Homo sapiens: one gene and its partner. The protein of the gene in region 1 interacts with the protein of each later gene in a biochemical or structural test. Each region holds a gene or a part of one and is shown on either strand. Other genes may lie near its edges. The genes, in order: RNF139 and UBE2J2.

The links.
Region 2: the proteins of RNF139 (region 1) and UBE2J2 form a complex in vitro, tested with the Homo sapiens proteins (one study listed by BioGRID).

What each region holds. Positions count from the first base shown.
Region 1 is NC_000008.11:124,467,657-124,479,791, forward strand, and holds the start of RNF139 (E3 ubiquitin-protein ligase RNF139), read left to right. Parts: upstream 1-7,223; 5' UTR 7,224-7,453; coding exon 7,454-7,634; intron 7,635-12,135. UniProt on the Homo sapiens protein: E3-ubiquitin ligase; acts as a negative regulator of cell proliferation through mechanisms involving G2/M arrest and cell death.
Region 2 is NC_000001.11:1,267,889-1,279,327, reverse strand, and holds the start of UBE2J2 (ubiquitin-conjugating enzyme E2 J2), read left to right. Parts: upstream 1-5,473; 5' UTR 5,474-5,662; exon of another isoform or gene 5,663-6,475; intron 6,476-11,335; coding exon 11,336-11,439. UniProt on the Homo sapiens protein: Catalyzes the covalent attachment of ubiquitin to other proteins. Seems to function in the selective degradation of misfolded membrane proteins from the endoplasmic reticulum (ERAD).

The DNA of each region.
Region 1 (12,135 bases):
CTCTATAAAAGCAATGAGAACACAGGCAAAAATGGTCAGTCAACTTTTTCAGAACTCTAGAAAGTAACTAAAAGCTTGAAATAATCTGAGGTGCCTCTATTTGAGAAAAACAGCTAAATCTTGGTAAACAGGGAAGCATTTTAACTTGCCTTATTCCCAGCCCCCACCTCTTAATACAATGATAAATAGTAATGGTGACAGTGAGCAACCTTCTTACTCTTAACTTTAGGGAGAATGCTTCCAGCATGTTTCACCATTAAGTGATATGCTGTCCTTTGTTAAGCAGTATCCAGAGTCCTATTATATTGTTGGCTTATCATGTTTCCCACTGCACTCTAGTGTCACTTTTCTAATGAATCAAGTGACCCTATATGTGTGGAGTTTTTCTAGACTTTCTGTTCTGTTCTGTTCCATGGGTCAGTTTTTCTATCCATGCACCAATACTATCTCGTCTTCATTACTATAGCTTAGAATAGGTCCTGATGTCTCACAGTATAAATCCTTCAACTTTGTTTTTTAAGACTGCCTTAGGTATTCTTGACCTTTTCCAGTTTCTTAGGAATTTTAAAATTGGCTTTTTGATTTTTGGAAAAAAGAACCTGCTGAGATTTTTTTTTAATTGAGATTACATAGAATATATAGGTCAACATCTTTACAATACTGAATCTTCCATCTTGAAGTTTTATTATATCCAGTTGGGTGTAACTGTGAAATGAGAAGCAATTATCAGAAACCCGGATTACAGGATCCCACCTAAGGTGAAAGGTCCTATACTTCCCATCAGTGGGATACTATAGCCATCTTCTCTGGGCTCTCTGCTTTGACAGATGTTTTCAACTTAAGTATTACCTGTATTCTTCCTCTCAGCAGTATCTCAGTCCTCAGATTATGCTTGACCGTCACCGAAGATGAACATATTTTATCATTCACTCATATTCTAATGTAAATTAAGTCCTACTTATTTCATACAATAATTCGAACTAATATCTTCACAGCACTCCTGAGTCATAAATGGAGTCACTGCAAAGTGCTGTGCACTGCAAAGTGCTGTGTGTAGTAACAGGGGTTCCAATGAGTGTATCTCCTACAATTGGTTTACTACATGCTATACTAGGTATTTAAGATGTATTGCTTTAATTCTTGTAAAAAAGCAAGAGAACATACTTGCAGAGGATCAGATCTTAGGCTCTGGAATCAGAAAAATATGAATCAGAAACCTGGCTCTGCCACTACTATTGACTGATTAGTTCTGTGTCCTTGGACAAGTTTGGTGAGGGCTAAATTGGATAGTGCATGTCATGTATTTCATATCTTATGTGGCAATATTCTTTTCCCCAAATGATACTAAAGATTAGACAGCTTAAATACTTTGCCTCAAGACACAGAACTAGAAAGAGGCAGAAGAGGGCTAGCATACTGCCAAGCACATAGAAAGTATTCAGTAAATGTCTGCTGAATGAACAAACCACAGTCAGTATATACTCAACATTTACTTCAAATACCACTATATTCTCTGTTGTTTCCTTTAACTTATGCAACAAACTTAAAATATTTTTTATTTCCATAGGTTTTTGGGGAACAGGTAGTATTTGGTTTCACAGGTAAGTTCTTTAGTGGTGATTTGTGAGATTTTGGTCTACCCATCACCCAAGCAGTATACACTGAACCCAATTTGTAGTCTTTTATCCCTTACCCTCTTCCCACCCTTTCCCCGAGTCCCCAAATTCTATCATGTCATTCTTATGCCTTTGCATTTTCATAGCTTAGCTCCCACTTATGAGAACATATGATATTTGGTTTTCCATTCCTGAGTTACTTCACCTAGAATAATAGTCTCCTATCTCATTCAGGTCGCTGCGAATGCCATTAATTCATTCCTTTTTATGGCTGAGTAGTATTCTGTCATATATTTATACCACAGTTTCTTTATCCACTCATTGATTGATAGGCATTTGGGTTGGTTCCACATTTTTGCAATTACGAAGTGTGCTGCTATAAACATGCATGTCCAAGTATCTTTTTCATGTAATGACTTCTTTTCCTCTGGGTAGATAACCCAGTAGTGGGAATCCTGGATCAAATGGTAATTCTAGTTTTAGTTCTTTAAGGAGTCTCCACACTGTTTTCCATAGTGGTTGTACTAGTTTACATTCCCACTTCTACATACACAGCAGTGTAGAAGTAGCAAAAACAAACTCTTACTATTTATTTGGCATCTACAAAACCAGAAAATTCAAATAGAATTTTGATGGGCACATCTGAATTTACTTTAATGAGAAGAGAAAAACCATAAAGTAATTTAGGATAAGAGATCAATTGCAGTAATTCCCAGGGTCTGAGAAAAAGTTATGGCATATATTTTCACCATCAATCCTACTTGCTTTGGTTGGAATGTGTCCCCCAAATTGCATGCATTGGAAACTTAATCCCCAATATGGCAGTACTGAAAGGTGGGGCCTTTAAGAAGTGATTGGGTCATGAGGGCTGGTGATCCATTCATGGACTAATGGGTTGATAGATTAATGGGTTACTATAAGAGTGGGATTGGTGGCTTTTTTTTTTTTTTTTTTTTTTTGAGACAGACTCTTGCTCTGTTGCCCAGGCTGGAGTGCAGTGGTGTGATCTCGGCTTACTGCAACCTCTGCCTCCCTGGTTCAAGCGATTCTCCTGCCTCAGCCTCCCACCACGCCAGGCTAATTTTTTGTATTTTTAGTAGAGATGGGGTTTCACCACGTTGGCCAGGCTTGTCTCAAACTCCTGACCTTAGGTGATCCACCCACCTCGGCCTCCCAAAGTGCTGGGATTACAGGCGTGAGCCACCGTGCCTGGCCTGGGACTGGTGGCTTCATAAAAAGAGGAAGAAAGGCCTGAGTGGGCATGCTCAGCCCCCCTGATCCCTGCAGTCCCCACCAGCAACAAGATTCTCCCCAGATGTGGTCCCTCCACCTTGAAATTCTCAGCCTCCTCCCTAACTGCCAGAAATGAATTCCTTTTCTTTATAAATTACCCAGTTTCAGGCATTCTGTTATAAACCACAGAATACAGACTAGGACACTACCCTTCCTACCAGTATCCCTATCTTCCACTTGAAGAAAATACATATTAGTAGAAGTGGGGAGTGAAGGGGTTAAATCCAAGTGCATGTTTCCTACTGCCTCCTCCCACTACAGAAGCTAGGGTGCAGATACATGATCCAATAAGCTTGACCAATTGGATGGTGATGTAATTTGGATCTCCCCTGCAAATCTCATGTTGAGATGTAATTCCCAGTTAGAGGTAGGGCCTGGTGGTGTTTGGGTCATGGGGACTGATCCCTGATGGCTTGGTGTTGTCCTCACCATAGTGAGTTCTCATGAGATCTGATTGTTTAAAAGTGTGTGACACCTATCCCCACCCCCTCGCTCCTGTTTTTGCCATGTGAAGTGCCTGATCCTACTTCACCTTCCACCATGAGCAAAAGCTTCCTGAGGCCTCCCCAGAAGCAGATGCAGGCACTAGGTTTCCTGTACAGCCTGTAGAACCGTGAGCCAATTAAACTTCTTTTCTTATAAATTACTCAGCCTCAGGTACTTATAGCAATGCAAGAATGGCCTAATATAGGTGGTCTCTCCTGGGACTTGAAATCTTGAGGAATAATGAAAATAACCCCTTAATAAATTCCCTTTTTGCTTAAGATAACCCAGAAGAATCAGTTTCTGTTGTAGGAAACAAAGACTTCATTAATGCAAATGTCAAGAGAAAATTCAAACTAGTTTTTACACATCCTACCTGTAAAAGTTTTGAAAGCTACTAAAAGGCTTTCTGAGCTGTTAAATCTGAAGGATTTATAACAGATTGTTATTTTCAAACACGAGTATTCTATGTATACAGTTTGTGTGTGTGTGTATTCACACACACACACACACACACTCATGAACCACACTGTGCAGACTCAATATAAATGTACACCTGAGTTGTGCAACATTCAAATCAATGCAGAAATCAAGCAAAGATTAGATTCAGTGAATTGTAGCTATTTCTTGGAAACATTACCTTTTTTTTGAGACAGGGTCTCACTCTGTCACCCAGGCTAGAGTACAGTGGCGTGATCTTGGCTCACTGCAACCTCTGCTACCCAGGCTCAAGGCAGGCTCAAGTGATCCTCCCACCTCAGCCTCCTGAGCAGCTGGTACCACAGGCCTATGCCACCATGCCCAGCTATTTTTTTTTCCCCCAAGACAGAGTCTCACTCTGTCACCCAGGCTGCAGTGCAGTGGCGCCATCCTGGCTCACTGCAACCTCCGCCTCTCGGGTTTAAGCAATTCTCCTGCCTCAGCCTCCCAAGTAGTTGGGATTACAGGTGCCCACCATCACACCCGGCTAATTTTTGTATATTTAATAGACATGGGGGTTTTACCATGTCGGCCAGGCTGATCTCGAACTCCTGACCTTGTGATCCGCCCGCCTCGGCCTCTCAAAGTGCTGGAATTACAGGTGTGAGCCACCGCGCCCAGCCCACATCCAGCTATTTTTACAATTTTTTTGTAAAGATATAGTTTTGCCTTGTTGGACAGGCTCGTCTTGAACTTCTGGCTCAAGCAATCCACCCTCCTTGGCCTCCCAAAGTGCCGGGATTTCAGGCATAAGCCACCACACCCAGCTGGAAACATCTTTTATCTTAAAAATTCCTAAGCATCCTATAAATTACCTCATTACTATAAATTTAATTTTAACGTAGTATTTTAACACAGTTGCCAGGACCTCATTCAAACCTTCATTTTATAGATGGAGAAAGAGAGCTCACACAGGGGTGTCCAAGGGAGATAATACAGTCATGGGTTCTTAGTTTCCGCTTCTGGTTGGGTCAGTAAATACCTCCTCATCTCTCTTTTCCGCTTATCACTAGAAACAGAAACTAAAAACCATGGCTTCAGGCTGTTAACAGCCTAAAACAAAACAGAACAACAACAGTAACAAAATAAGGTGGGTTGGACAAGTTTGGCAGAGAGCCTGCTTGGAGAAGCTGTGTGAAAAAAAAAAAAGACTGCCACCGCTCCTGAAAGTTCTCGGCCCAAGATGGAATTTAGTCAAAGAAACTCTTACACTAATAAAATTTGTACATCAAATTAAGATCAGGGACAGTTAAAACATTAATAAAGACTGAAGCATTTGTTCATTTAAAAAATTTTATTTAATATTTACATTTATTTTTAAAATAAAAATTAGAGGAAAGCCCATGAACTCATTTTCCATGAACATAATATAATAGTACTCACCTATCTCCTCTACCCAACTTGTGTTTTAGATGAGTCCTTTTGGATCTTTTTCCCCATAATGGCCTCTCTCCTTTTGCTTTACAGTGCAATCAGGGCAGAATAACAGATATGTTGAGTAGCTAATTTATATTTCTGAAGATCTCCATAGAACTCTTAAGTTCTAAGTCTTCATAGTCTTTGCACCTTGCCAAGTTTGCTTTCCTTTGGGAATTCTGTCATAACCACAAGGTTATTCCCCAGACATGCAGTTTGGGGAAATTAACCCGGCAGTAGTAAACAGACTGGATTAGAAAAGGTGGCAGTCGTAATAAGGATATTCCAATAACCGGGGAAAGCTACAGAAGGATCTTGAGTTAGGATGATGACAGTTACAATAGAAAGGAGACCAGTACAAGAGACGGTGAAAACAGAATGGATACAATTTAGTTGAAGAATTGGCTGTGGGTGAAAAGAAGAAATCAAAGATGCCTGAAGTTGTGAGTTTCAGGTAGCCCTGAGTTTATAATCCTAGTTCTGACTCGTACTATCTTTGGATATACTAGCTGCTGACTACTAACTGAACAAGGTAGTAACCTTGTCATCTTGTAACTTACCTAAGTCTGTTTCCTCCTCTATAAAACAAACTATCAAAATAAAGCCGATGAAAAGATTGAAGTAAAACATAAAACCCTTAGCACAGTGCCTAGTATCCATTAAGCAGTAGATAAATGATGGCGGTCATTATTAGGGAGTAGGGTAAAGAACAGAAGGTTAAAAACATGAGTAGCAGTAAGGACTTTTGGGTGGGGATTCGGTCTTTCTACTACACATTACACATACCTCTAAGCAGAGAAAGGGGTTGGAGGGGAGTTTGATAATGTGACTAATAATCCTCCTCCCCCTGGGGGGGATCTTGATAAAGGATAGCCACCCACATGGAGGCCTAATATAAACTGGATTGCAGAATGCACTTGAGCTGGGAGCCCAAGCGGGCCAGGCTTCTTGATTCCTATTTTATCCCCTTTAACCTAGGATAGCTAGGTCTATAGTGCAGACTCAGACCTAACTTACACTTTCATTTGCAGCTGAAGTTTCGGAACAAAGACAAAGATAGCCAGATCATATTAATTACACGGATAGGCAAGAAAGCATGAGCCCTGAGGAGGAAGGAAGGGACTGTCCAGGTGTACTTACCTCAAAGATGAGAAATATCAAAGACAGGAAACCCTAGGTTCTTGCCCTTCAGTCGCTATCTCCTTGCCATTAGTAAAATGCGGCCGATGAATGTCCTCACTTCTGTCCATCTGGGCAGGAGGTGGGAAGGGTGACGTGCAAATGGATGGGAGGAACCCTTTTTTCGGCAGCACCCACCACACCCAGCCTAGTGCCACGCACCGCAAGCGCTCCATAAACGCACACAGCGTCGCCTCTACCAGGATCCCGGGCGGCCTTCGCGGGATTTCTCCTGGCGTCGGCTTTCAGACTCCCGAGGGTGGGATAAATCGAGAGGGTGGCATCCTTTGGCTTTTCTTCTCCCAGGCAGCTCTGAACCATGTTTATGCAACGTTTAATGGGCTCTAATAAAACGGCTAATAATTTTGATCCGCGGAAGCACCGACTCGCTCGCTAAGCCGAATCTGCGAGGGTGAAGCTGCAACTCCAACGCCGGAAAGCGCGGCTACCGAAAAGCGCATGCGCCACGGGGTGGCACGAAGCTAGAGTAAGCTGAGGAGGTGGGCGGAAACCATGGCAACCATGGGTGATGACGACATGGGGAGCGTCTCTAGCGCTGGATTATGACGCTGGATTATGACGCAGGCAGTGGGCGCGGACTCTGCGGTTCGCTTGACTGACGGCGCAGCCTCCGGGCCTAGCCACAGCAGCAACGGCAGAGGCCAGCGGGCGAGGTCAAGATGGTGGCTCCGCGGGCGGGGGAGGCAGTGGAGGGAGGAGGAGTCAGACCTTAGCCAGCCGGAAACACCGAAACCCAGAGACCTCCTGGGGAGCCGCCGCCGCCGCCCTCTCGGCCATCGCTGCCTCCGCCGCCTGCTCCACCTCGAGGGACGCGAGCGGGCGGCGGGGCTGGCCGTGAGAGAGACAGGAGAGGAAGGAGGGCAGGGGCGGAGTTGCCCGCCTTAGCCCCCGCCCCCGGCCGCGGCCCCGGGCCCTGCCCCGCGCGGCCCTGCCCGGCCCACCGAGCCCTGGTGTGGCAGCGGCTCATGGCGGCCGTGGGGCCCCCGCAGCAGCAGGTGCGGATGGCCCATCAGCAGGTCTGGGCGGCGCTCGAAGTGGCGCTCCGGGTGCCCTGCCTTTACATCATCGACGCCATCTTCAACTCCTACCCGGATTCCAGCCAAAGCCGGTTCTGCATCGTGCTCCAGATCTTCCTCCGGCTCTTTGGTAAGGGAACAGGGTACCGTACGTCCCGGGACGGCTATGCGGGCCGAGACGTTCCCCGGGGAGCGGGCAGGCGCGCAGAGGCCATGGGTCGAGTATGTGTCTTTGGGAACTACAGTTTCATCCCTCAAAGGGTCGTCTTTACGGGTTGGGAGGGGGAAGGAGATGATACTTGTCTGAGTTGACAGCGGAGCAGTCCCCCTAGCGAGGATTCAGTGTTGTACCTGAGTGAGGTGGGGAGAAAGTAAGGATGTGTGAGCATGCAGCTCTTTGCCCGTTTGCCTTGGGAAATGAGTACTGGCTTACCGCGTCCTATGCGACAGCCTTCGAAAAACAACTCTGCTATCCCAGTCTCGTCGTGTGTGACCTTGGACTTCTGCCAAGGCGTGGGCCTCAGTTTCCCTTTATTACCAAATGCCGAGTACTTGTATGTTGTCACTTCTGCTGCACCCGAGGGTCCACAGGATCGTGAAGTGTCTGCAGTAAATGACATCCAAGCGAAGGAGACAGGGTTTTGAATGTCAGACCTTGAAACCATTACCAAAAATTCTCATGAAAGCGGCGATGCTTAAATCGAGTCCTAAAATTTTCCATGAATAAACGAGAAGGTATTGAAAGTGACTGTAAAAAGTGATGAGACATTTGCCAAAGAGACTTCTGAAAATCATTGTCTTTGTTTCGTATGGATGGAGTGTTAAAAGTATCTTATATTTCATTTCTTCCTTTCCATCTTCACTTACATCATCAGAGGGAGATGCATTTATGCGTAAAATAATTTTTTAAGTAATTGTAACTTGGCAAATTTTGTTGATGAGGTAATTCTGGTGATCGGTCTTAAGTAGGCTAGTGCTTTTGAAGTGTTGCTGAGGGCAGACTGATGGTGAGGTCTTTACCAAGCCTTTCTGAATTACAAGCCATCTGTTGCTTTATTCCTTCAAAAGAGGAGTGGCAATAAAGGCCGAATTTTGTTCTTAGCAATAAATAGCCATATTTTACATTTATCTGGTATTTTCCTTTTGCAAAGCATTTTCACTGGTAGGTATTATCTAACCTAACCTTCAAACATCCCCCAGAGGTGGGTGGTGGTATTGTCATTTTACAAACCAGGAAACAGGGTCATAGAGGTTAAGTGTTTTGCTCTTGGTAGGCTGCCGCTAAGTGGTTGCCAGAGCCTGAGCTTAAAAATCTTTTGACATTAAATATGGTTTACTTTCCTCCCTAACAGCTGCAATCCAGATACAGAATGCAGTAGTAATGATCATATGCTAGATCTTAAAACTAAAGATGTAAACGTGATGTTCAGCCCAAGCTGCTTCAGTAACCCACCTGCTACCTAATTCCAGCCTTTCCTACTTGCCACTGCTAACGTATACCACCACCATAATTTGTGTTAAAAACTGGGCTCTGTTTGAGAGGATTCTGCATGTTCATCCCAGAAACAGTGTAGTGACTGCTTTGAATATTCTTACAGCATGATAACTGCAGATTCTGTGAGAATCCCTTTGGGACCTGGTGCTTTAATGCAGTAGTCTGTTGAGCTTCAGGTTAGGCAGCTTCAAGGAAAAGAAGTATTTTCTTTAATTAAATAATTTGTAGTGTAAGAACATTGAACAAAGCAATCTGATATTTTCCTTGTACTAGGCATGTTTCTTTTGTAATAAATCTTGGAAGTTTGTGTTTGACAAAGAACAACATGACTTAAGGCAACTGCTCAGTGCTTTGGTTTCTTATTTTTACCTTTTAAAAGATGGAGAGTGAGGTTATCTGTTTCATAGGGTGTTAAAGACAATAAATCTATTTTAATGCTTCATTTAATACCATATTTTGTTAGATATTTTGGTCTTTTGAAATCATCGGCAAAATATTGGTGTTGTTTATTTGAAAATTTTGATCCCTGGAATCTCTGGATCAGACTTTGAGAAATACGAAATACTCTTCAAATCTATCATCCGACTCTTCTTACTGTGTCATGTAATTATGCTAATTTTTCACATTTGTAAGGATGATAAGAATGAAAAAAACTGATTTCGGTGCTAAAAAATTATGTTACTAAAAGACACAGGTTTGTGTGTAAATATGCCAATGGATAGTTGAAATTAATCGTTCTGCCTTGTTAGTTTTTTTGTAGTTGTAGACTTCTCAGTACTACTGTGTATAAGTCTTACCACTTGTCAACCTCACTTTTTTCTTTAAAATTAATGTGTAAAAATGGAAATCTCTAAGTAAAAAGCATTACCAGTTTTATGTGTGGTGGTAGAAGTATTTACTCCCCTCTACCTACAAAATGGTGCTACAACTGTACCTTCATTTGATATCAAACTAATTTGAGATTTCAACCGGTTAGAAAATAAAGCAACTCATTTTGGAGATCCAAATAAAATTCTATGACAATATATGGAATATTGAAGAACATAAAGCTGTGTTTTAAGGGATGTTAAATACTAAACGAAACTCAACCCAGAGCAGCATAATGCTGAGTTAGCAAATTTAAATCCAAGGCAGAAAATGCAAGCCTAGGAGTTTGTTTTAATAGTATTACTAATATGGTGATAATTCATTGAGGTGGGAAAAGGCTTTAAACATAACAGAAGACCCAGAAGTTCCAAGGAAAAATCTGAAAAATTTCAGTACATAAAAATAAAAAGCTTTTTTATGGCAAAGCTTAAAAAAGAATCCTTAAATGACAAACTGAGATAAAATACTTCTATCATAAGTGATTCACGTTCCAGTAAGAGTTTTACCCTGCCAGGGAAGCTGAGGCAGGAGAATCGCTTGAACCAGGGAGTTGCAGGTTGCAGTGAGCCGAGATCGCTCCACTGCACTCCAGCCTGGGGATAGAGTGAGACTCTGTCTAAAAAAAAAAACAAAACAAAACAAGAAAAAACTTATACTCCCTTAGGAAAATGCCTAAGACAAGCAATTCACAATAAACAAAATGCAGATGTTCAATAAGCAAGAGAAAAAGTATTTAGCCCTTCCTGCAGTAGCTTGATTTTATGGGGGAAAAAAAAAAGTACCTAGCCTTGTTTATAATTAAATACTGTCAAGACCGCTTACGGTGGCTCACGCCTATAATCCCAGCACTTTGGGAGGCTGAGGCAGGCAGATTGCTTGAGGCCAGGAGTTTGACACCAGCTTGGCCAAATGGCACAACCCGTGTCTACCAAAAAATTAGCCGGGTGCAGTGACTCCTGCCCATAGTCCCAGCTACTGTGGAGGCTGAGGCACGAGAATCTCTCGAATCGGGGAGGTGGAGGTTGCAGTGAGCCAAGATCGCGCCACTGCACTCCAGCCTGGGCGATAGAGCGAGACTGTCTCAAAAAAAAAAAAAAAGTCAAAAAAAATTTATCAGATTGGTGAAGAGTTCAAAGTTTTATTAGTTTTGCAAAGGTATTTACCTTTTTGAAATAGGTAAATTTATACAATTTTGGAAGACTTTTTTTTTTTTTTGAGACGGAGTTTGCTCTTGTTGCCCAGGCCGGAGTGCAATGGCGTGATCTCGGCTCACCACAACTTCCACCTCCCAGGTTCGGGCGATTCTCCGGCCTCAGCCTCCCGAGTAGCTAGGATGATTACAGGCAAGCGCCACCACCCCCGGCAAATTTTTTTCTATTTTTAGTAGAGACAGGTTTTCTCCATGTTGGTCAGGCTGTTCTCCAACTCCCGACCTCAGGTGATCTGCCCACATCGTCCTCCCAGAGTGCTGGGATTACAGGCGTGAGCCACCGTGCCTGGCCCGGAAGACTCTTAATTTCAGTGTAAAACCATTTGGCAGTATCAACTGTCATTTACAACTGACTTCTCAGTGTTTTGTTTTGTTTTTGAGACAGTCTCACTCTGTCACCAAGGCTGGAGTGCAGTGGCGTGATCTCAGCACACTGCAACCTCCACCTCCCAGGTTCAAGCGATTCTCCTGCCTCAGCCTCCCAAGTAGCTGGGATGCCTGGCTCGTACAACTTTTGACTCACAATTTCAATTCTAGGGAATTGGCCTAGAGAGATAGTTTGCTTAAGGACTATGGGCAAGCATTACTGGAAATAACAAAGCAACAAACTTAATCTAAATATGTATTGATACAAATCTGTTCATTGTATTAGGTCTAGCCATGCAATAAAGTTCTTGAAAGAAATGAGATAGCTATTTTTGGTGCCGAAAAAGACTTCAGAAAACCTCTGAAGTGAAAAAACAAAGCCGAAGTAATTATCACTGGCAGAGGAATAGACAGAGATTTCTCAACAGTGGCAGTATTGACATTTTGGACAGGATAATTCTTTGTTTGCGGATGGGAGCTCTCCTGTGCACTGTAAGATTTTTAGCAGCATCACTATCCCCTGCCCATTAGATGCCAGTAGCACCTTGCACCCCCACACCCCAGTGTGACAGCCAAAACTGTCCCTGGATATTGCCAAATCATGGTTGAGAACCATTGGGATAGACAAATAGATTAGTACTTAGCCTTATTTATAATTACATAGCCCAGAAACAGACACCAATGTATATATAG
Region 2 (11,439 bases), on another chromosome or scaffold:
GAGAGAGAAACAGAGACACGTAAGAGGGCGAAGATGCCTCAGTGGTGACACACTGGGGAGTCCCGCCCACGACCCGTCCACGACCGGCACACTCAACCTGCTCCACGGAACCCCATTCCACAGCTCGGTTCCTCTGCGCCCCACCTGCTCCACGGAACCCCAGTTCCTCCATACTCAACCTGCTCCACGGAACCCCAGGCCACAGCTCAGTTCCTCCGCGCCCCACCTGCTCCATGGAACCCCAGGCCACAGCTCGGTTCCTTTCAAGAAAAAAAAAAGTGGGAAATAAATAATGTAAGCCTCAGCAAAGACAAGAGGGCGACCTCCTTCCAGGCACCCCGCTGGTTTCAGGCGCCTCTACCTGCAAGTGTTGGTATAAAACTGAACATGTCGCGGGCATGCTGGGTTTCCTAGTGCCCCAGCTGGTTCCATATTATGGTCTTTTGGGGCACATTTTAAACTGATGGGCAAATTCCATCCAGGAAAAATTCAGAGCCCAAAGGTCAGCCTGCAACTACAGAACCATAGAGTTCCTGGCCAGGCGCAGTGGCTCACGCCTGTAATCCCAGCACTTTTGGAGGCCAAGGCGGGCGGATCACCTGAGGTCAGGAGTTCGAGACCAGCCTGACCGACAGAGTGAAACCCCATCACTACTAAAAATACAAAAATGAGCCGAGCGTGGTGGCATGCACCTGTAATCCCAGCTACTTGGGAGGCTTAGGCAGGAGAATAGCTTGAATCTAGAAGGCGGAGGTTGCAGTGAGCTGAGATCGTGCCATTGCACCCCAGCCAGGGCTGCAAGAACAAAACTCTGTTTCAAAAAAAAAAAAAAAAAAGAACTATAGAGTTCCTAAGTTCTCTATCTCTCTGTTTCCTTTGCTGCCTGCCTTAAAGCTGCTGTTACACTTTTTGTTTTTTTTAGGTAGAGTCTCACTGTGTTGCCCAGGCTAGAGTGCAGGGGTGCGATCTCGGCGCACTGCAAACTCTGCCTCCTGGGTTCAAACGATTCTCCTGCCTCAGCCTTCCAAGTAGCCAGGATTACAGGTGTGCGCCACCACGCCTGGCTAGTTTTTGTAAATTTAGTAGAGACGTGGTTTCACCATGTTGGCCAGGCTGGTCTTGAACTCCTGGCCTGAGGCAATCCACTCACCTTGGCCTCCCAAAGTGCTGGGATTACAGTTGTGAGCCACCGTGCCTGACCAGCTGTTACTTTTCTACTGAGATGACATCCACAGTTTGCATCTAGATGTTTCTTTCTGTTATTGTTTTTCTAACTAGTGACTTTGTGTTGATATGTCATGGTTAGAGGTGTAAAGCAAAAGCTGTAGGGTTTTTGGATGAGTGTATATGTGTGTTTAGATGTGTTTATGTGTACGTGCGTGGATTCTGATACATGTTTTGTGGCCACAAGGTATCAAAGTGGCTTAAGGAGTATGCATACATTTAGTACATAATAACAAATTTCATGTGACTTAAGTAAAAAATTTTTTTTTTTTTGAGACGGAGTCTCGCTCTGTCCCCCAGGCTGGAGTGCGGTGGTGCGATCTGGGCTCACTGCAAGCTCTGCCTTCTGGGTTCAGGCCATTCTCCTGCCTCAGCCTCCCGAGTAGCTGGGACTACAGGCGCCCGCTACCACGCCCGGCTAATTTTTTGTATATTTTAGTAGAGACGGGGTTTCACCATGTTAGCCAGGACGGTCTCCATCTCCTGACCTCGTGATGTACCTGCCTCGGCCTCCCAAAGTGCTGGGATTACAGGCGTGAGCCACCGTGCCCGGCCAAAAGTATTGGTAAAGTAATATAAGGAGTGTCTTAAAAACTGTCAGCATACATTTTTGTTTGCATTTATTGATTTATAAGGGGTCAAAACTTGGCATAAGCATTGTAAAACTCTAAACCCAGCTGAAGGCCAGGCATGGGGACTCACACCTGTAATCCCAGAACTTTGGGAGGCCGAGGCAGGTAGATCACCTGAGATCAGGAATTGGAGACCAGCCTGGCCAACATGGCAAAACCCCGTCTCTACTGAAAAATACAAAAATTAGCCAGGTGTGGTAGCACATGCCTGTAATCCCAGCTACTTGGGAAGCTGAGGCCGGAGAATCACTTGGACCTGGGAGGGGGAGGTTGCAGTGAGCCGAGATTGCACCATCGCACTCCAGCCTGGGCGACAGAGTGAGACTCCATCTAAAAAAAAAAAAATTATAGGAAAACGTTCTTTCTACAAAAATTCTTATTATAAGGTAAATAATTTTGTCTAATTCAAAGCTTATTTAAAGTTTATGTATAAAATGAGTTAAAAAGAACAAGGAAATAAGAGAGACCAAGGAAAGTTATAGATATAAAGAGGTCTTTTTGTTAAGTAAGGTTAAAAAAAATAATTTTATATGAGAAAGAATCTTGTATGGTAAATTTTTGTCCTTAAATAAATGACTGGTTGTTTAAAAAAAGGGATGTTCAGCACAAACTAGAAAGTCCACATGTCGTGAACGGTCTGTGTAAGCTGCAATACCTTTGGTAAAAAAGGAATTTATAAAAATGTTACATGATAGATCGGGTGTGGTGGCTCATGCCTGCAATCCCAACACTTTGGGAGGCCAAGGAGGGCGGATCACTTGAGGTCAGGAGTTCAAGACCAGCCTGGCCAACATGGTGAAACCCTGTCTCTACAAAAATATAAAAATTAGCCAGGCATGGTGGTGCATGCCTGTAGTTCCAGCTGCTCAGGAGGCTGGGGCAGGAGACTCAATGGAACCTGGGAGGCGGAGGTTGCAGTGAGCCGAGATCATGCCACTGTACTCCAGCCTGGGCGACAGAGTGAGACTCCAACTTTAAAAAAAAAAATTGTTTTAAGAGGTAATGAATGCTGGTCCATGTCCATTCCTATCTGGCCTACAAAATTTAATGGGCTGTAAATCTTTTAACTGTAAGTCCCTGGGTCATAGGGAGTCAAACTGAGGGACAGGATTGACTGAGGGTGGGCAGCCACACTCGCCCAGCAACGCTGAGACACAATAAAGATTTGGTGGACATGGATGTTGCCTCTGGCAAATCTTGGCCAGAAGGGGGTGAATGTAAACCAAAAATTAAATTCTAAGGCCCCCCCAGCCGTCCAAATGGACCCTTCCTCTCAGCCAAGGGCGTTCCAGTGTTAACCTGGGAACTTGTTCAGGCCATGGCGGGAAGGGGTCGTGGGTCATGCCTCCTCCCTTTTGAAATTCAGGAAAAGCTGACTAGCATTAACATCAACACAGGCCTTAAGTCTGATAGGAAACATTAACAATCTATTCTCTCTGAAGCCGGCAACCCGAGGCTTCAGCTGCGTGGAAAACCACAACCCCTTACTGCAACCCAGACATTCCTTTCTATTGATAATAACTCTTTCAACCACTGTCGGTCAGGATCATTTTGAATCTGCCTATAACATAGAGGTCTCCCCACACCACCCCAATTTATCCTGCTCTTTCAGATTGAACCCGTGTAAATAAATCATGTCTCCCTAAAATGTATAAAAGCGAGCTGTGCCACATGCACCTTGGGCACCTCCCGAGATGTCATGGGTGTGTCCTTAACCTTGGCAAAACAAACTTTCTAAAGGGACTGAGACCTTCCTCAGTTTGCACCCTCCAGGCTGGGTTCTCTGTCCCTCAAGCATCCCCTGGCCAGACAATCCCTGCTGTTCAGAGGCAGCCAAGGCTTTCTGGTCCAACCCTGGGGGCTGGAGGAGGTGGGGGCAGGAGGTGGTAACTGGGTTGGGGGATGTTTTCTTGGTTGCCAAAGCAGAGGGTGCCCCCCGCTGCTCAAGATGCTGAGGGTGGTCCCTGTTGTCCTATTCCTGAAGCTGCCAGAGGAAGTCCCTCCGGAGGGCTGGCCCACAGCAGAAGGGCTGCTCCTGCCCTCAGAGGGCAATCTCAGGGTTGAGAAGGTTACAGCCACCATCTGCCACCAACCTAGCTGCTTGTGCCGATCCCACTGGCCAAGGCCATCGGCTCTATGGCTAGAGGCCTGGGCAGCCTGTGTCCTGCTTACCAGAAGGCCACAGATGCGGGTGGGTGGGGTGGTGGGGTCTTGGCAAGACGTGCTGGCCACACCTGTCCGGGGCACCTTCTCCCTGGGGTGTGACTCAGCCATGCTCCTGAGCAGGGGCCTCTGAGTTGAGCCTCGCTGCAGTCTTCCCAGCTGCAGGGCCCCCACAGGTGTGCTGTCATCGCACACTACTGAGGGACAGACAAGGCAGAGCGGGCCTCCATCTGCCGCGGGCCACAGCCGTGAGTGTGCATGCGAGTGGATGTGCTGGTGCCTGTATCTGCGGCCGGTGTGGCTTCCCTCACATAACTTTCCATGCTGTGAAAACAGTTTGGCCTGCCCTGCATGGGAACGGCAGAGGCCTGAGAGGAGGCAGAGGAAGGAGGCTGGATGCTGAGATGTTCTCCGAAGGTGGAGCCGGTGACGGCAGTAATGGAGGCAGGCTGGATTCCCACGGGCTGAGGCTGCGTGGACACTCCTCCTGGCTTCTGCCCCACGGCCTGCAGCAACGTCTCAGACCCACCAAGGTGTCCCAGAGGGCCAGAGTCAGGGCTGAGCATGGACACAGCCTGCCCTCTGCCCGTAGCCACAGCGGGACTGACCCTCAATATTCAGCCACCTTGCTGACCTGTGGTTGTTCCTGAGAGGCAGTCAGGGTTGGGGCAAAGGAGAGGGCCACAGGCAGCCAGGTGGCGAGGTCCACCTCCTGATCCCCCACCAGGGGACCACCCTCAGCTCCCCGCTGTCCTCAGCGGCCTCTCAGGGAGGCGGTGGGCTGCGCGCCTGCCCCCAGCGTCCCACCCCAGCGCCCCGCCACCTACCGCTCTCTCCCAATGTGTCTGGGGTCAGAGAGAGGTGGAGAGGACGCAGCGCCCCGCGCTTTCTGCAGTCTGTCCAAGGGGAGGTCAGGGGCATCCCGGGGCTGGGCAGGCACCTGCAGGGGAGGGTGCTGCGGCGCGGACGTGGGTTGCAAAGAGATGCCACGCGTGTCACTCTCGGGTCCCTGAACGAGAGAGCTCTGAGCTCCCTGGAGCCCAACCCTCCACTGAGCCTCCAGGGGCCCGGGACGCTCCATGCCCGGGCCGCGCCGCGCCTCCCCTAAGGGCCGGGTGGGGCGTGGGAGCGGAGGACAAGGCGGGAGCCGGGAGGCGGGAGGGTCGGGGTTCTTTCTCCACCGGGGTCGCCCTCAGCCGGGCCTGCCGCCCTGGGCCGTGGCACATGGGGAGGGAAGCGCGCGGCTTCGGGGTCTGGGGCTCTCGCGCCCACTAACGGTGCCCGGAGCCGCCCGCCAGTGCGCAAGCGCCGCCCCGCCCCCCGCCCCATCCCCCACCCCGGGGTCGACGGCGACAGAGAGTCGTGGGCGCGGTCCGCCAGTCTGCCTAGAGCGGCCAGCCCTCCCCCTCCCTCCTCACCGCCCCGGACCGCGCACCGGAAGCAGAAGCTAGGCTGGTTCCGCCCCGCGAGCGGCCATCTTGGAGGCTGAGGCGGCGGCGGCGGCGCTGCGGCGGGTTCGGTGGGCCCAATCCCGGGGCGGTGCGGCTGTTTCGGGCGCGGGCCCCGCTTTTCCGCACCCTGCTCCGGCCTCGACTACGGCGAGCCTGAGCGCGGCGGCGGCCCACGCGCAGCGACAGGGAGAGGTGAGCGCGCTCGCAGGCCTGCGCCGGGTCCTCGGGCCCGCTCGTCCCCCCTGCCGGAGCCGGCCACAGCGGCGGCCCGGGGCTGCTGGGGACCCTGCGCGACGCTTCTCCGTTCGCGCCCGCCGCCCGCGGGGCCCCGGCCCGAGCCTGCCTGCGCGGAACCCGAGGTCGGTTACGGCGGGCTCCCGGAGCTCCGGGTCAGGGTCATGTCGGGGACTTGACCACTCGGCCGGGTTTCCCGTCAGCTGGGACACTTGCAGCTGCCCCAGGACGGGCAGCCTCGATCCTGGTTCGTCAGTGGATCACGGGAGTCTGTGTCGGGGGAGGGCTGCCGTCGAGCCCGCCGTCGCCTCGCCCCTGAACTGTTAGACTCCAGACTGCCCCGTAAACCCCGAGAGAAACGAGCGTGCCCGGGACTGTGCTTAGGGCCAGCGTTTCTGGGAAACCCGGGCGGTGACAGTGGGAGACCACCGCCGGCCGGCGAGTGAGACACGAGCCCGGAACAAGTCTCTAAGCGGCGCCGGGCCTCGCCATCCACACCTGCCAGTTCCCTGCATCCTTTCAGCCCCTGGCCAGGTGTCACCTCCTGGCGTCCTTTTCAGTGCCTGCCACTTAGTGCGTGTGTATTTAACTCTAGTCCGGTTGCCATCCTCTTGCCAGACCCAGATAGGAAGCGGCTGAAAGGTCGGGCCTCAGCCCGGTGGGAGGTGGGCAGCGAAGAGTGTACAGCGGGCTTGGCTGGGGCAGGTCGGTGGCCCCGCGCCCTGCTCCAGGGGAACCAGACTGTGTAATCTGGCTTCCGAAGAAAGGATCGTGAGTATCTCGCTTAGTCTAGCACCTGAGCCTAGGGCGTGGTTGGGTCTGGGTGCCCGGAACTTGCAGTCCGTCATCTGCACGGCCTGGCACCGCTGACCTCCTTAGCAGTTCCACTCTCGGCAGGGATGTGCGTGAGTGACAGGCAGGTGAGCCAGGCAGGTAGGTGAGTGCTTGAGTGACAGGCAGGTGAGCCAGGCAGGTAGGTGCGTGGATGAGTGACAGGCAGGTGACCCAGGCAGGTGCATGTGTGAGTCGCAGGTGAGTGTCCCATTTCCATCGGCCCGGGCTTCCGTCCAGCCTCCGGAGCAGTCTGGTGGAGAAGGCAGAGACTTCCCTGGCAGTCCTGGACCTGGGTGTGCCATGCGCCTGGCCGATGGGTCAGGCCAAGGTTTCCTGCCACATCCCCTAAGCAGGAAAGAGCTGTCCAGACAAAGAGGGACGGGTGAGGGACGCTGGGCAGCCACTGCCTCAGCACCTGGGCACAGCTGCCCTCGGTGATTCACGCTGCTTTAATGCAGTTTCTGTGTGTGAACATTTTTTTTTCCTGTGCCTTTTTGTTTTAAAATCGCCAACTCTTTCTCTCAGCAGGATGATATGCTTGGTGTCCTTTGTCTGTGGGGATGTTTGAAGGGAACCCGAGGCACATATGCTTCAAACTCTGTTCTCACAGTTTGCTTCCTTTGTGGAATTTTTTTTTTTTGATACAGGGTCTCTGTTGGCCCAGCTAGAGTGCAGTGACATGATCTCAGTTCACTACAGCCTCCGGCTCCCGAGTTCAAGTAATTCTCCCACCTCAGCCTCCAGAGTAGCTGGGATTGCAGGTGCCCACCACCACACCCGGCTAATTTTTTTTTTTTTTTTTTTTTTTTTTTTTTGAGACGGAGTTTCGCTCTTGTTGCCCAGGCTGGAGTGCAATGGCTTGATCTTGGCCCACCACAGCCTCCACCTCCTGGATTCAAGTGATTCTCCTGCCTCAGTCACCCGAGTAGCTGGGATTACAGGCACATGCCACCATGCCTGATTAATTTTGTATTTTTAGTAGAGACGGGGTTTTACCATGTTGGTCAGGCTGGTCTCGAACCCCCGATCTCAGGTAATCTGCCTGCCTGGGCCTCCCAAAGTGTTGGGATTACAGGTGTGAGCCACCACGCCCAGCCCCTTTGTGAATTTTTGTTTTCCTTGTCCTTCCTGCTGTCATATTGGGATGAGAAGAATTGGGGGAAATAGCCCCCTGGCCTCCTGGGGGACGTGAGAATGCTGTTCTGTGTGAAGCTCAGGAAGAGTGGCTGGGGAAACAGCAGTTGAATCGTGAACATGATTTTAAAAGCCTCTCCAAGCAGGTATGGGAGAGAAGCTTGTTTGTGACTCATTGGATGGAATCTATTTTATTTTTGCGCGGCTGTCCATGAACTTTCGTTAAACCTGCGGCCTGGCCACTTAGCTAAGCCCAGACCCACCTGCACTTGAATTGTCCAGTGAATTATTTTGTATATGGCAGAGTGTTAGCTTCAGGGTGAGTGTCGAAAGGACAGCCTGTGTGGCGGTGCTGCTTGGGGTCATCACTGTGGCCATCACCAGGTGTTGGCCTGAGGGGAGATCCCTGGCCCATTGGCTTCTTTAGCCAGGAGCTGGGGATGCCACTGTGTGGAAGCACTTCCTTCCCAGGCAGGACTGTAACCCCATCCCTGGTGGGGGCCCTCCTGGGGAGGCACTCCTTAGGCAGAGGAACCCGCTGGGGCCCAGAAGGGCCCTGCGTTGTGTGTGGGGTCACATGGAGGCCAGTGATGTGTGACAGAGTGGGAGGCATTTGGCAGGGAAATCAGGGAGGCCTCTGAAGGCGGTGGCTCTGGCTATGCCGGGAAGGGCCTGGGGAGTTTCCAGTACAGGCTAGGCTGGGAAGCAGCTGTGAGAAGGAGTGTGTCGGTCAGGACTTTGGAGTGGGACCTGGGCCGTGCTGGGTCTTGGGAGTTGGGAACGAGGAGGGCTGGCTGGGGCTGCTCTGTCTTGGGAGCTGGGAATGAGGAGGGCTGGCTGGGGCTGCCTCTGTCAAGGGGCTGGCAGGCAAGAGGACGTGTTGATGTTTATTTGCTTGGCTGTGGAGTATCCTGAAGGGTGGATGGGGGAGTGGGTGATCGGAACAGTATGTTGACTTATGGGTACAGGAGGGCCTTGAAATGGGAAGAGACTAGAAGCTCAGACCTTCTGGACCCACGGGGGGAGTTGGGAGGCTCCTGTGGTGTTGATGGGAGAAGTGATGACATTTTGCGTTAGAGAAGATAATGAGAGTGGGAAGGCTGTGGTGAACAAGGATTGCAAGAGTCAGGGACCCCAGAACAAGAAGCAGGGTTGGGGGTGGTGCTGAGGCCACACATTTGGGAGCACGCGTTGGGTGCCCTGGCTGAGCTCTGCACTCCAGGCCCTGGGTGTGTGGGGTGAGCAGCCAAGCCCTGGCCATTGACATCCTCAGGTTGGGAGCAGACACTAAACAGGCTGCTGGTGGTGGTTCTCTGAGGAGGAATAAACCGGTTAGAGAGGCCAAGTCTGTAGATCTCTTGCAGGTGGAGACTGAAAGGAGGTGGAATGTGTGGCTGTCTACAGGTGTATGAGTTGGTTCTCATGCTGCTATAAAGATGTACCCGAGACTCAGTAATTTATAAAGAAAAGGGGTTTAATGGACTCACAGTTCCGTGTGGCCAGGGAGGCCTCAGGAAACTTACAATCATGGCGGAAGGGGAAGAGGCATGTCTCACATGGCAGCAGGCTAGAGAGAGCGGGCAAGAGCAGGGAACACTGCCTTATAAACCATCAGATCTCCTGAGAACTCGCTTTCACTGGAACGGCTTGGGGAAACTGCTCCCATGATCCAGTCACCTCCCACAAGGTCCCTCCCTCAACATGGGGGATTATGGGGATTACAAGTCAATATAAGATTTGGGTGGGGACATAGCCAAAGCATATCAGCAAGGAAACTGGGTAGAGTAGACTTCCGGTTTGTGGGAACTGGGAGGTCAGGATGGAGATCACTGGTCACTGTCCGTTATCGATGGCCACTGATGTCCACAGACGTTATTAAATCGTGTGGCCATGGCTGGGCGCGGGGACTCACGCCTGTAATCCCAGCACTTTGGGAGGCCGAGGTGGGCAGATTACCTGAGGTCAGGAGTTCGAGACCAGCCTGACCAACATGGTGAAACCCCGTCTCTACTAAAAATACAAAAAAAATTTGCTTGGCATGGTGGCAGGCACCTGTAATCCCAGCTACTTGAGTGGCTGAGGCAGGAGAATCACTTGAACCCAGGAGGCAGAGGTTGCAGTGAGCGGAGATCACACCACTGCACTCCAACCTGGGCAACGAACAGTGAGATTCTATCTCAAAAAAAAAAAAAAAATAAGGTTTGAGTTGGAGCTAGTCTGATGCAGCAGGGAGCCCTGTTTTCATCACCACCCCTCTCCCCAGTCTCAGGTGTGGCTGAGGGGCCTTGGGGTCCCTGATCCAGCCTCCTCTCTTGCATGATGATCACCACCCCTCTCCCCAGTCTCGGGTGTGGCTGAGGGGCTTTGGGGTCCCTGATCCAGCCTCCTCTCTTGCATGATGATCACCACCCCTCTCCCCAGTCTCGGGTGTGGCTGAGGGGCCTTGGGGTCCCTGATCCAGCCTCCTCTCTTGCATGATGATCACCACCCCTCTCCCCAGTCTCGGGTGTGGCTGAGGGGCCTTGGGGTCCCTGATCCAGCCTCCTCTCTTGCATGGTGCCTCGCGCCCCATGCTCGGCCTTCAGTGCTGTCTTGAACGTCCCAATGGAGCCACCAGAGTGACTTTCCTAACAGAAGATATGATCTGCCTTGAGGCTTGGACCCCAAACCCCTGTGGGGCCCGGGTTACCGTGGCTCCTGCCTGTGATTCCAGCACTTCCGGAGGCTGAGGCCTGAGAATCAGTTGAGGCCAGGAGTTTGAGACCACCTTGGGCAACATAGTGAGATCCCAGCTCTACAAAAAAAAAAAAATTAGCTAGGCGTGGTGGCATGCGTCTGTAGTCTCAGCTACTCAGGAGGCTGAGGTGGGAGGATTGCTTGAGCCGAGGTGGTCAAGGCCACAGTGACTCCAGCCTGGGCGACAGAGCAAGACCCTGTCTCACGAAAAATAAGTAAATAAACTCTTATGCCCTGGCCCTGCCTCCCTGGCCAGTCTTATCCCTGCCCTCACTGTGCTTGGGCCCTTGCACACTGCACTTTCTCAGGTGTGGCCTGTTCACCTGTGGCCCCTTCTACCAGGAAGACAGCTGCTCTGCCCAGTGAGTGCCTTGGAGTCTCCAGAGTCCTCGTCCCTCCAGCCGCAGAGGCTCCCCCGTTCTGCGGCTCGTTTTGCTTGTGGCTAGTGGTAAATGCTGGGCAGCGGGCTTCCGGGTGCGGTGAAGGGGCCGGCGGTGGTGCCTGCCCACTTCTATGGTGTGGATTCTCCATCAGTGCGGGGTCCTTGAGCTGAGTTGGAAGGTGCGAGTAGCTGCCCTCAGGAGCTGGTCTGAGGCTGTGGCCCGAATACCCCCTCAAGCCCTGTAAATGTATCCCTGCGTGAGTTTTTGGAGGACAGGAACGAGGCTTTGGGTTTCTCCTCGTCTTTGTACCTGAGCTGTACGTCGTGTCAATGAAGGTGGTGGCGGGACAGACGGGAAGAGAGAAGCCGCAGGGCCTCTGGGTGTCTGGGCGGGTGGCAAGCGAGGGTGACCTGTGAGCTGTGACTCTGGGTGACCGGGCCCTGAATGAATGGCGGGCTGCAGAGGCGGGAGTGGGGCTGCGCCAGGGGAGAGAGCTGTGGCCGGCGCTGCTTCTCGTCGTCAGTGTAGACGTTGCTTTTAACAGATGAGCAGCACCAGCAGTAAGAGGGCTCCGACCACGGCAACCCAGAGGCTGAAGCAGGACTACCTTCGCATTAAGAAAGACCCGGTGCCTTACATCTGTGCCGA